3 linked regions of the Homo sapiens genome follow. The protein of the gene in region 3 purifies or fractionates together with the protein of the main gene of each other region. This does not show direct contact. Each region holds a gene or a part of one and is shown on either strand. Other genes may lie near its edges.

Region 1 (3,652 bases), on a different chromosome or scaffold from region 3:
TATGAGGTATACTAAAAAGTTATGTTAAGGTCTCATTTCTCTCAGGGATAGCCTCTTTTTCCACTTGCCACTGGTGTCCCTGAGGGGCACCCTTGGTAAAATCCTCCAGATCTTACTGTCACTCCAAACACATTCATTTCAACTACTTCTGCCACTATCCATTTGCTGACTACTCCCAAATCCATATCACCAGCCCAGCTCTGTCTCCTGAGCTCTGGATCTGTATATGCAGCTGTTTATGATCAGCCATCCTTGGACTAGTCCACTGACACTTCAAAACAGGGTCCCAAACTCTATATCTTCACCCTCAGATCTGCTCTTGCTCCCAAATCAGGGTCATGGTCCCCATTCACCCAGCTATTCCAGAATCTGTCCCAGGAGTCATCTTTGACTCCTTCCTCTCCGATGCTCCATACTCTCCCCTCCAACAGCAACTCTGATCAGCTTTCCTCCAAATCAGTCCCACTTTGTTAGTTCATGCTCTCACCTGGATTAGTGCTTCCTAGATGGTCTTTTGCCTTTTTTTTTTTTTTTTTAAAGACGGAGTCTCCCTCTATTGCCCAGGCTGGAGTGCAGTGGTGCAATCTTGGCTGACTGCAACCTCCACCTCCCAGATTCAAGGGATTCTCCTGCCTCAGCCTCCCGAGTAGCTGGGACTACAGACGCGTGCCACCATGCCCAGCTAGTTTTTTTTTTTTTTTTTTTTTGTATTTTTAGTAGAGACTGGGTTTCACCATACCGGCCAGGCTGGTCTCAAACTCGTGACCTTGTGATCCGCCTGCCTCAGCCTCCCAAAGTGCTGGGATTACAGTTGTAAGCGACCACGCCTGGCCTACTTTTGCTTTCTTACATTCCAGTGTCTACACTGCCACTGAGAAGGACTATTCTAAAACACAGTTTTGAGCATGTGACTTCTCTGCTAGAAGACTGTCAGTTGCTCCTTTCTCCTCCACAGAGCTCTTCCTCACCTGACTGGTGCTTCCCTTCTGCCTCCCTCTCTGACCTTTGAACTTTAAGCTCCAGCCAGTCTAAACCACTTGTAGTTCCTCAGCTACACCATCCTCTCCCACAGAACTTTCACATACTGCTGCTTCTGGCTGGAATGCCCCTTTCACCCTTCTCTTCTCTGGTTTCTATTATAAGGAAATCTAGCACAAATCTAAACTCTTGAGTTCAGGAGTAACACAGGCTGGAATCGAATTCAGGCTCCACCTCGTATAAACGGTGTCATCTTAAGCAAGTCACTTTTCTTTGCATTTCGGTCTCCTCCTTTGTCACATAAAGAACACCTGCCTGATTGTATTACCATGGGCTAAACTAATTGAACACAAAGCACATAGCACAGTATCTGCCACAGAGTAAATGCTCACTATATGCTCAATAGATATTTTTACTATAGGCACTCAACCTTGACATCTCAGATTAGATACGTTTCCCCAGTGCCCAGGTCCACTTTAGATGTTCTTTCCAAGGCTCTTGCAGCAATCCACAGATGCCTCTATCATAATTCTCCTTCCATCATTCAAGTGCCCACCTTATCGCTGGCAGTTGGTTTATCATCCCTCACTTGACTGTAAGCTTCTCAAGATTAGGTATCTGCCTTACACATTTCTGTTTTGCCAGACCAGCTCCTTAATATTTAATATGTGATGACGTCCAGGGTTTTAATTTTATTAAACACTGAAAGAGAGCTTGTTAAAATTTCACAATATGACACACCTTAGATTAGGCAGGCGATATAGTCAGGTTTTTCACTTGAAAATTCAATTACAGGTAGGCACGGTGGCTTATGCCTGTGATCCCAGCACTTTGGGAAGCCAAAGCAAGAGGATCACTTGAGCCCAGGAGTTTGAGACCAGCCTGGGCAACATAGCAAGACTTTGTCTCTCCTAAAAAATAAAAAAAGAAAAATATAGCCAGGCATGGTGGCACGCGCCTGTAGTCCCAGCTACTCAAAAGGCTGAGGCAGGAGGATCCCTTGAGCCCAGAAGTTCAAGGTTGCAGTGAGCTGTGATCACACCACTGCATCCCTGCCTGGGTGACAGAGCAAGACCTTGTCTGTAAGAAAAAAATAAAAAGTAAAAAACGAAAATAAATTCAATTACATTTCTTCATTCTATATAAACATAAAATGAAAGAGAAGTGGTAGACAGTTCCCACATAATTTCATTTGGCAGCAAAAGTAAATATATGGTGCTCACTTCAGCAGCACATACACTAAAACCATAACAGTTCAGAGAGGACTAGCATGCCCCTGCAGAAGGATGACACACATTTGCAGTGTTACATATTTTCTTTAGAAAAGTAAATATGGCTGGGTGCAGTGGCTCACCCCTGTAATCCCAGCACTTTAGAAGGCCAAGGCGGGTGGATAACCTGAGGTCAGGAGTTTGAGACCAGCCTGGCCAACATGGTGAAACCCCATCCCTACAAAAATACAAAAAAAAATTAGCCGGGCATCATGGCGGGGGCCTGTAATCCCAGCTACTCGGGAGGCTGAGGCGGGAGAACTGCTTGAACCTGGGAGGCGGAGGTTGCAGTGAGCCGAGATCGCACCATTGCATTCCCGCCTGAGTGACAGAGCAAGACTCTGTCTCAAAAAAAAAAAAAAAAAAAGTAAATATATGCTATTTTAAAATGCTATTTTAAAAGAAGCAATTGTGCATAAAAAGAACATTTAAGAATGATTAACTGTACTTTCACACTTCACAGAAATGTCTCAGATCAAGCTCAAATTGCATGGTAGAAATAGGATGTCCCATTAAAATAATGAGGGTATTTCTATGCTCAGGGTTATATTTGTAGAAGTACCAGAAAAAATAAAAAGGAAACTATAAATTGGGCATTATCTTACACACCAGGTAGCTGAATCAATCTGACCTTAATGTTTCATAGGTACTATCTGCAGAGACCAACTCAGGTTGTTCACCTGTCAGAACTAACACTGATTAAATAATGCCCCTGACACTATTCTTAAAACCTTTTGCCTCCATATGTTTAAAGAAAAATCCTAGCAAATCAGCTAAAAATTGTGGTTAGTGAAGTTACTAATGTGCATGAAGAAATACGCATCATCATAATTTCTGGACAATCATTATTTACTGATGTTTTAAAGTTAAATTCACCTGACAATAGTAAATATTCCAGTTCAAAACTGTTATGAAAGAGATTATTAGCACGTTGAAGTTCTGCACAGTTTCCAGCTGAGCTGTCATTTAAACCACACCCACACAGCCCAAAAGCACATCATGCACAGAGAATTCAGGTGAGGTGACATTAAATCTCAACAAGTTTGGGGACATTTGGCAAGATAAAAATCCTTGATCAACTAGTCCAAAAGCACTGTCACCCATAAGAAACAGGGGGAACACTCAGCATAAATACCAATTTCAGCACTTCTTTTACATTGTGTCACTGAAAAGATTCATAGTGTAAGCAGTAGTAAGTTAGAAAATAATCAAGACAAGCCAGGCTCATGCTCCGAGCTCTCTTGGGACACCATTATTACCTTTAGCCACATTTTCCTTCCATCATTCAAGCACCTACCCTATCACTGGCAGTTGGTTTATCATCCTTCACTTGACTGTAAGCTTCTCAAGTTTAGGTTTCTGCCTTACACATTTCTGTTTTGCCAGACCAGCTCCTTGCCTTG
Region 2 (3,652 bases), on a different chromosome or scaffold from region 3:
GCACCCCAGTCGTCCCGTGCATAACCTCACGGGCCAGCACCTGGTAGCTGCTGGAAGGCTTCTGGGGGATGCCTGGGCCCCTCCAGCCCTACCTCTAGTCCTGCCACTTTACAACTGAGCACCTCCCGCTGCTGCCTGCTGAACCCTTCAGAGTCCTTGCCACAGGCCCTATTTACTTTTTCCTGAGAAGGTATGTGTGATGCCAAAGAGAGAAAAGCAGCATTTGCTAATTTGGGTAAAATGTTTCTTTGGGAAGGGCAAATTGATGTACAGTTGTCCCTCAGTATCTGTTGGGACTGGTTCCAGGACCCCGTGGATACCGAAACCCTCAGATGCTCAAGTCCCTTATATCAAATGGTGTAGAATTTACATGTAACCTAAACACTTCCTCCTGTACACTTTAAATCATCTCTAGATCCCTTACACTACCTAATACAAACTAAATGCTATATAAATAATTGTTATACTGTATTTTTTAAATTGCTATTATTTTTTATTGTTGTGCTATTATTTTTATTGGGCTCCCTCCTCCCCCTCCCACCCCAGTAATTTCAATCCAAGGTTGGTGGAATCCATGGATGCAGAAACAATGGATACTGAGGGCCGGCTGACTAGACCTATTTTTATTGTAATTACTCATTCTCTTCTACCTCATTAAGCTTGGTTCTTTCAAGCATGAATACCTGGTTGAATCTGCATAACCTCTTATTATCGACCTACCTTTGTTCACACACAAATGATTGCCACTTAGAGCTCTCCTACCGGGCTCCTTTTGTAAAATAAATTTTATCTTCTCCAGATAGAAAGAAATGTGATACCTTGCGGATTTTGCGGTTTCCTTGTTTTGCTGGATTGCAAGTCCTTTAGACATAAACAAATGTTCTGTACCCCGACATCGGTGGTACCCAGCTCTCAGTTGAGAAAGAGATGTAATGTGAATGCCACTCTTGGCCCCAGGCACTCCTCACTTGCCCCCACTGGGGACTGGTTCATACCCTCCTCTCCTGGCCTCAGTTTCCATACCTCTTAGTGAGGCCTTTGCGTTATACTTCAGAAATATTGTCAGTATGACTTTGAAGATGAAAGTTTGCCCCCAAAATCACTCTCTGTTATCATTGTGAAACCAGAGATGGAATGGAAAAATGGGTTTCTGAGACATTTTAAATTATTCCTTGCTTGTCTTTAGAGGCAAAATTCAGATAAGAAAGCTTATCAATTATACTTTTGTTTCTACTCAAAAACTCATGACTGCTCACTCAAAGACTCCTTGTTCTTATCTTAAAACATTGTTTACAGTGTCCCAGATGAATGGCAACAAATCCTGGGGTTTGGTGTTTGGATGGTACATTTCCCTGGGGAAAGAAATAACAGTTTGAGATGGAACCGGGTTGGGGTGGGAGAATACTTCTCATTCTGAGGAATATTTAATTTTGCCAAGATGAGCATTTCTAGTTCTTAGTCTGTTGACGAAAAGAGCTATGGTTTGTTTCTGGAACTTTTGATAAAAAATAAAGAAATTTGTAGCCTGGGGAGTTTGGTTTTAAAATGCAAACACAGGAGTTATGAGTTGAGACTTGGACAGGGTGTCATTTTCTTTTTAAAGGGCAGCAATATGATTCTTTGATTTGTCTTTGTTATCTTGACTTTTAATCCGGATTCCTGGGCAGTTGTTCAGCCCCAGGACATCTCCATGGGCAGGTGGCCTGGCCTTGGCACACTACCCAGTAAATCTCTGCCTGAGAGGACGCTTTAGCTGGGAGGCCAGGCTGATTTTTAAAGGCAGAATTGGACTATTTACTCTAAAACAGTAATGCACACTGTTTAGAAAGAAACATTCCTATTCTGGGAGGAAGGAGGAGACACACAGAAGTATCATTTATTTCTAGTCTTTTCTGGTAGAAGCTATGAAGCTGAGTTTACTCTCTGGAAATTTGTAGTTTATTTTCTAGAAAATTGCATTTTATCACTGCAAAAAGGATTTTATTTCCAAATGAGTAGGCTTTTGAGCAAGAGTTTTGGAGTCACAGAGATGGGGTTAAGAAAGTGATAATGTGCAATGGCGATTCTCAAGTTCAAGGAGAAAAAATAACATGCTTTTATTGGGATACTTTGCTTGTCTATAAAAGAAAGTAGCTATTGGCATTTATGTAGAAGTCAGCAGTTTCTTGGCACCAAATAAATAATTTTGTGCTGAATAAAGGGAGAGTTATCCATAGTATTTATTACTAACCAAAGAAATGCAGGGAGAATTGTAATTCATTAGGTTTTGATGGCCAGGAAAGCCAAGCTGTGTTATTAGGGTCATGACAATCACAGACATTACGGATGGCTGACCTGTAGTATGGATAGAGGGCAGAGGGTAGAGTGTGAAATATATCACAGAATTATGTCAAATAATCTGGATAGTTACTACTGCTTAAAATCTAAGTGCACAGCTAGAAAAGTGGGTAGTGACGCACTACAGTCTTGCTGAACACTGGGTAAGAAAATCATAGCAAACGTTGAGTCTGTTTTGGAAATGTTCTAAAACCAGACTATTAACACAGTGAGCCATTTTAAATGTGGCTTGCTACGTGTTTGGAGAGAAACACATACTCTTTTATTAGGAACATGAAACAAACTCTTTGAGCCGCAGTATCACTGCGAGTGAGTTTAATTGCTGGGATTAATAAATCACAGCTGCAAACGTTAAATTCTTGGCAGGATTCTTTATTCAGCTGTTTTCCCCTTGCCCCATTACATTCCAGATTTGTGGTCTGCATTATGTCTGGAGCCAGAAGTAAGCTTGCTCTTTTCCTCTGCGGCTGTTACGTGGTTGCCCTGGGAGCCCACACCGGGGAGGAGAGCGTGGCTGACCATCACGAGGCTGAATATTATGTGGCTGCCGTGTATGAGCATCCATCCATCCTGAGTCTGAACCCTCTGGCTCTCATCAGCCGCCAAGAGGCCTTGGAGCTCATGAACCAGAACCTTGACATCTATGAACAGCAAGTGATGACTGCAGCCCAAAAGGCAAGAATGCTCCTCGGAACCTGAGTTTCTCTCATACAGAGCAGATTGCTCTTTACCCCTTGATCAGTGGTTGGGTAATCCCAGGCTTCCTACCACCCTCTGAAAAAGCATCCAGGTAGTTAACCTGAGTTGAGTTAGTCAGTTGAATTAGGAGCCTTACCCCTCAGAGAGTGGTCCGTGGACCGGCATCCCCTGGGAGCTTGTTAGAAATACAAAATCTTGGGCGGCACCCCAGACCTACTGAATCAGAATGTGCATTGCAGCAGGATCCCCAGGTGATGCTTTCACATGGCAAGTATGAGAAGCCCAGGACTAGATCCCCAGTTCTCAAGTGTGGTTGTACATAAGAATCACGAGGTAAGTGGTAAACACTATGGCTGCCCGGGTCCTGGAGAGTCCGTTGTAATTGGTGTGGAAGGGGTGTGGACTGGCACTGGGATTGTTTTAAGGCTCCCCAGTGCAGTCTAATGTGCAGAAAAATTTGAAGATGACTGGGCGTGATGACCTCTCTGAGTCATTCGAAGCTTCACTGAAGTAGTAAGCATCTGCAAGAATGCCGTTTGCTCCCTTCAGACTGTTTGAGGCTCGTTTCCGGTCTCTATGTCGGACTACGATCAGTCTGAGACCTTCGCCCAGATAG
Region 3 (3,752 bases):
TTGTAAAATTCTTAGAATTCTTAAAATTCTTAAAGCTAATCATTTCTGCCCCCCACCAAAAAGAAAATCTGTAGGCTGGTGACCTCTTGGCTGACCTCTATCAAGTTTTGCATTTCTAACCTTCTATTTTGTACTTGTACTTGGATATTTTTAATATACATTTTAATTTTAATATGCCTATATGGCAAGTGTTAATTTCCCTCTCATAACTTGCTTCTTAAGAAGTTTCTCTAATTTCAGTAAATTACTTCATAATTTACCCACAGTTTTATCCATAAACCTAAGAATCATCCTTGATTTATTTTTCTCACACTTTCATATCCCTTTTATATACAAGTTCTATATTTTCTACCTCCACAACATGTATTCCAAATTCATTTACAGCTCTTCTTTCCCTGTGTGTACCATCCCAGTGTAAGCCATCATCATCTATTGCTTATAATCGTATTTCCACATCAACTGGCCCATTTCTTCTTCTCCAATCTCATTTCAAAGCACCTCCCCCGTTCACCCACACAACGCTGCCTCCATTGGCCTCTTTCCTAGTCCCCAAGCAAGTCATGCTCTTTGCTGTCCACAGATTTTGCTTTTCTTTCTTCTATTGAGAATGCCTGGAATACTAATTCCTGCCCAGCTTCTCCCATTACTTCACCTTATCCTTCAAGACTACCCTCTGTTTTTAACCTTCCCTAAAGTAGCCCACCACTTATCCTATCACATCACCTTGCTTACTTTTACTTAACAATTTAAAACATTCTGTAGTTACAGTAGTCCCTGCTTATCCACGGTTTCACTTTCCATGGTTTCAGTTACCCATGGTCAACTACAGTCTGAAAATATTAAATGGGAAATTCCAGAATTAATAAGTTTAAATTGTGAGCTTTAAATCTGAGTAGGGTGTTGAAATCTCTCACTGTCCAGCTCCAGCCCACCCAAGACATGAACCATCTTTTTGTCCAGCATGTCCATATGTAAACACCACTCTCCCATTAATCAGTTAGTAACCATCTTGGTGAACAGATAAAAAAAAATAGTATAATAAGGCATATACGTATCAGTGGTTTCAGGCATCCACTGTGGGTCTTGAAACATGCTCCTCCACCCCACACACACCTACGATTAAGGGGTAACTACTGTGTCTTATTTATCTATTCATCAGTTTACTGTGTACCTTAACTAGTAGGTAACTTAGATCAAAGCAGAGACCATGTCTTTTCAGTGCATGGCTGTGTCCCTTGAAATACAAGGATTGTGTGTCTCATAGGCACTCAATAAATATTTGCTAAACAACAGAATGAATTGATAATTAAGTGAATGACTGATGTCAAATTCCATTGAGATTCCCAAACCTTTTCATACATCTTTAGCCATCAGTGATAGACTGATGGCTAGTTACCCAAGAAAAGTTTTCTGATTTATTCTTTTACTTTTGATTCTGCCTTGGACTATTGATTGTTTTCATTAATAATAATAATAACATGTTACTTTGGGCAGCTAGTAGGAAAAGCAAGGCCAATGATGCTGACACATTCTGAAGGCCTCCTGGGTGATGCAATCAGTATTTAAACAAATAATTTCTGCCCATCAATCATTCCTCTACTTCCTGCAATGAAGCTCCCTGGAGGAGTCATCAGATTCTCAATCTTGCTTGAAGACTGACAAGATGTCCCTGTGGACTCCCAAACTCTACTCCAGATGGGGAGGTGCCCTTAACACCAAGATTTTAAAAGCTCCAATTTCAGAGCAAGAGTCGAAAACTCACAGATAAAGTTATAGTTATTTCAGGGTTCTGAAAAGACGCAGAACATGAAGGTAAGTAAAGGCTTTATTAACTTGAGACTTCTTAGCTATTTTTTAAAACGTTTTATAGCATTTTACCTATTTCATGTTTAATAAGGATTTTAGAGTTTAAAGGATATTTGAACGATACGCCTTTAGAATAACAGAATCATTTGATTTTACTAAGAAAAAAATTCACGTATTTACTTATTCTTCATTTGGGTGAAGTAATACAAATAATATGTTTCTAAATACGTTTTTTCAAGTGGACTCTTTGTGAATTAACTAGAAGGTAGAAGGGAAACACCTCCAGAAAACTGAGTATTAAAACAGAATATTGCGAGAAGTAAGGGGGTTTATAATTGTCCAGGCGTCAAGGAAGGAAGCAGAAGATCCTATTGGCACAGAAATGACCCTTTCTGGTTGATCGCTTCATATAGGGACTCAGAAGTCTGGCAGCAACAACCTTGGCTCTTTTCCTGGTGTTTGTTTTCCTGGGAAACTCCAGCTGCGCTCCGCAGGTAATCAAATGCAAAATAAAAAATTTTAAAACAATGCGCACTGTGTGTCCACTCTGCTCTTTCTTTCTTCCTTCTTGTTTTATTCTCTTCTTTTTCCTTTATTTTGCTGTAATAGAGGACTGAGCTGCAATGTTTTATTAACTGCTCTTCCCTTCCCCCGGGCTATAGAGACTGTTGGAGAGAAGGAACTGGACTCCTCAAGCTATGCTCTACCTGAAAGGGGCACGTAAGTTCCAAATATTTCGCTCTTCCTACAATAATGGAAGACCCCTAGGAGTCAGGAACAGATAGATGGAGAGTTATGGAGAGAGAATAATGTCGAGTTTATTCCCTTAAATCATCGAGGCCATCAAAGAGACCGGTAGGTGAGGGAGGGGTGGGAGAGGGGAAGAGTCCCTGATTATTGGAAATCCTCCATCCTTATTAGAAATTCTCCATCCAAAACTGGAGGGTTGCTTCTCTTGGTCCAAATGGGGACTCGGGTTGCCTGGGAAATATCTCAGTAACCCGACCTCCGCTCCAAAGCGCCCTTGCGGCGTCCGGTCAGGCGCGGGGCTTTCCTCCAGAGCTCCAGGGCCCCTGGCTCAGCCCGGGGTTGCGCTGGGAGCGCTGGAAACTCGGCAGCCCCGCGCGACCCTATCCTGGAGCAACCTGCCCCCTCCCCACGCCCGGGGACTGCGCTGTGCCGGGAGGAGCTGAGGTTTAAGCCCGGGTTGTCCCGGGCCAGGCTGTCGCTGAGCCCCAGGTCTCGTTTTTGCAGAGGGTCGCCGCTTCATCTCCGACCAGAGCCGGAGAAAGGACCTCTCCGACCGGCCACTGCCGGGTGAGTGACCAAGGGTGCAAGGGCGCTAGTCCTGCGCTTTTGGAATAGGATGGGGCGGGCAGGGCTTGCTCCGCGCTGGTGCCGAAAGAAAGCGTCTCCTCACCGGAAAGACGCGGCTCTGAGGCGCCCTCAGATACAGTCCGCCCGAGGGCAGCCCGGGTTGGCAGCAGCAGCAGCTGGATGCCGAGCGCCGGAGCTGGGAGCTCGCGCGTCCAGCCCCGCGCCAATGGTGGCAAGGGCGGCCCAGGCTGGCGCTGCGGCTCCCCAAGCCTTATTGGCTTGCGGCTGTTCAGCCAGCCCTCTGGCTGCCAGGGTGTGCAGAGGTCCCCAGGGAGTTAGGACCTGAGGTGCAGCTCAGAGGGGTAAGGCGAGATAGGAAGAACTATGCAAATGCTTCTAGAAATGTATCTGCGCGTTTGTGCAGGAACTTTACTCAGCCTCCTCTTAAACGCTGTTATTATTAAAATAAGAACTTACCTAGGAACTTCAAATGTATGCTTTTGTTTGACTAGAAAGAACTATCAAAGGTTCAAAATCAAAAGAGTAACATGCGGGCAGTTAAGGATGGGACCGGGGACTGTTCTTTTTCATGATAAACCTTTCCATCGTATTGTATTAACAAATAACAA

The links.
Region 1: the proteins of SPX (region 3) and NCEH1 purify together in Homo sapiens (affinity purification with mass spectrometry; one large-scale study listed by BioGRID and IntAct). This does not show direct contact.
Region 2: the proteins of SPX (region 3) and BTD purify together in Homo sapiens (affinity purification with mass spectrometry; one large-scale study listed by BioGRID and IntAct). This does not show direct contact.

The regions. Positions count from the first base shown.
Region 1 is NC_000003.12:172,700,931-172,704,582, forward strand, and holds part of NCEH1 (neutral cholesterol ester hydrolase 1), read right to left. Parts: intron 1-3,652.
Region 2 is NC_000003.12:15,632,677-15,636,328, forward strand, and holds part of BTD (biotinidase isoform 1 precursor), read left to right. Parts: exon of another isoform or gene 1-190; intron 191-2,747; 5' UTR 2,748-2,763; coding exon 2,764-3,012; intron 3,013-3,652. UniProt on the Homo sapiens protein: Catalytic release of biotin from biocytin, the product of biotin-dependent carboxylases degradation.
Region 3 is NC_000012.12:21,524,667-21,528,418, forward strand, and holds the start of SPX (spexin precursor), read left to right. Parts: upstream 1-1,629; 5' UTR 1,630-1,806; coding exon 1,807-1,812; intron 1,813-2,219; coding exon 2,220-2,300; intron 2,301-2,468; coding exon 2,469-2,526; intron 2,527-2,864; exon of another isoform or gene 2,865-3,060; coding exon 3,061-3,123; intron 3,124-3,285; exon of another isoform or gene 3,286-3,485; intron 3,486-3,752. UniProt on the Homo sapiens protein: Plays a role as a central modulator of cardiovascular and renal function and nociception. Also plays a role in energy metabolism and storage. Inhibits adrenocortical cell proliferation with minor stimulation on corticosteroid release.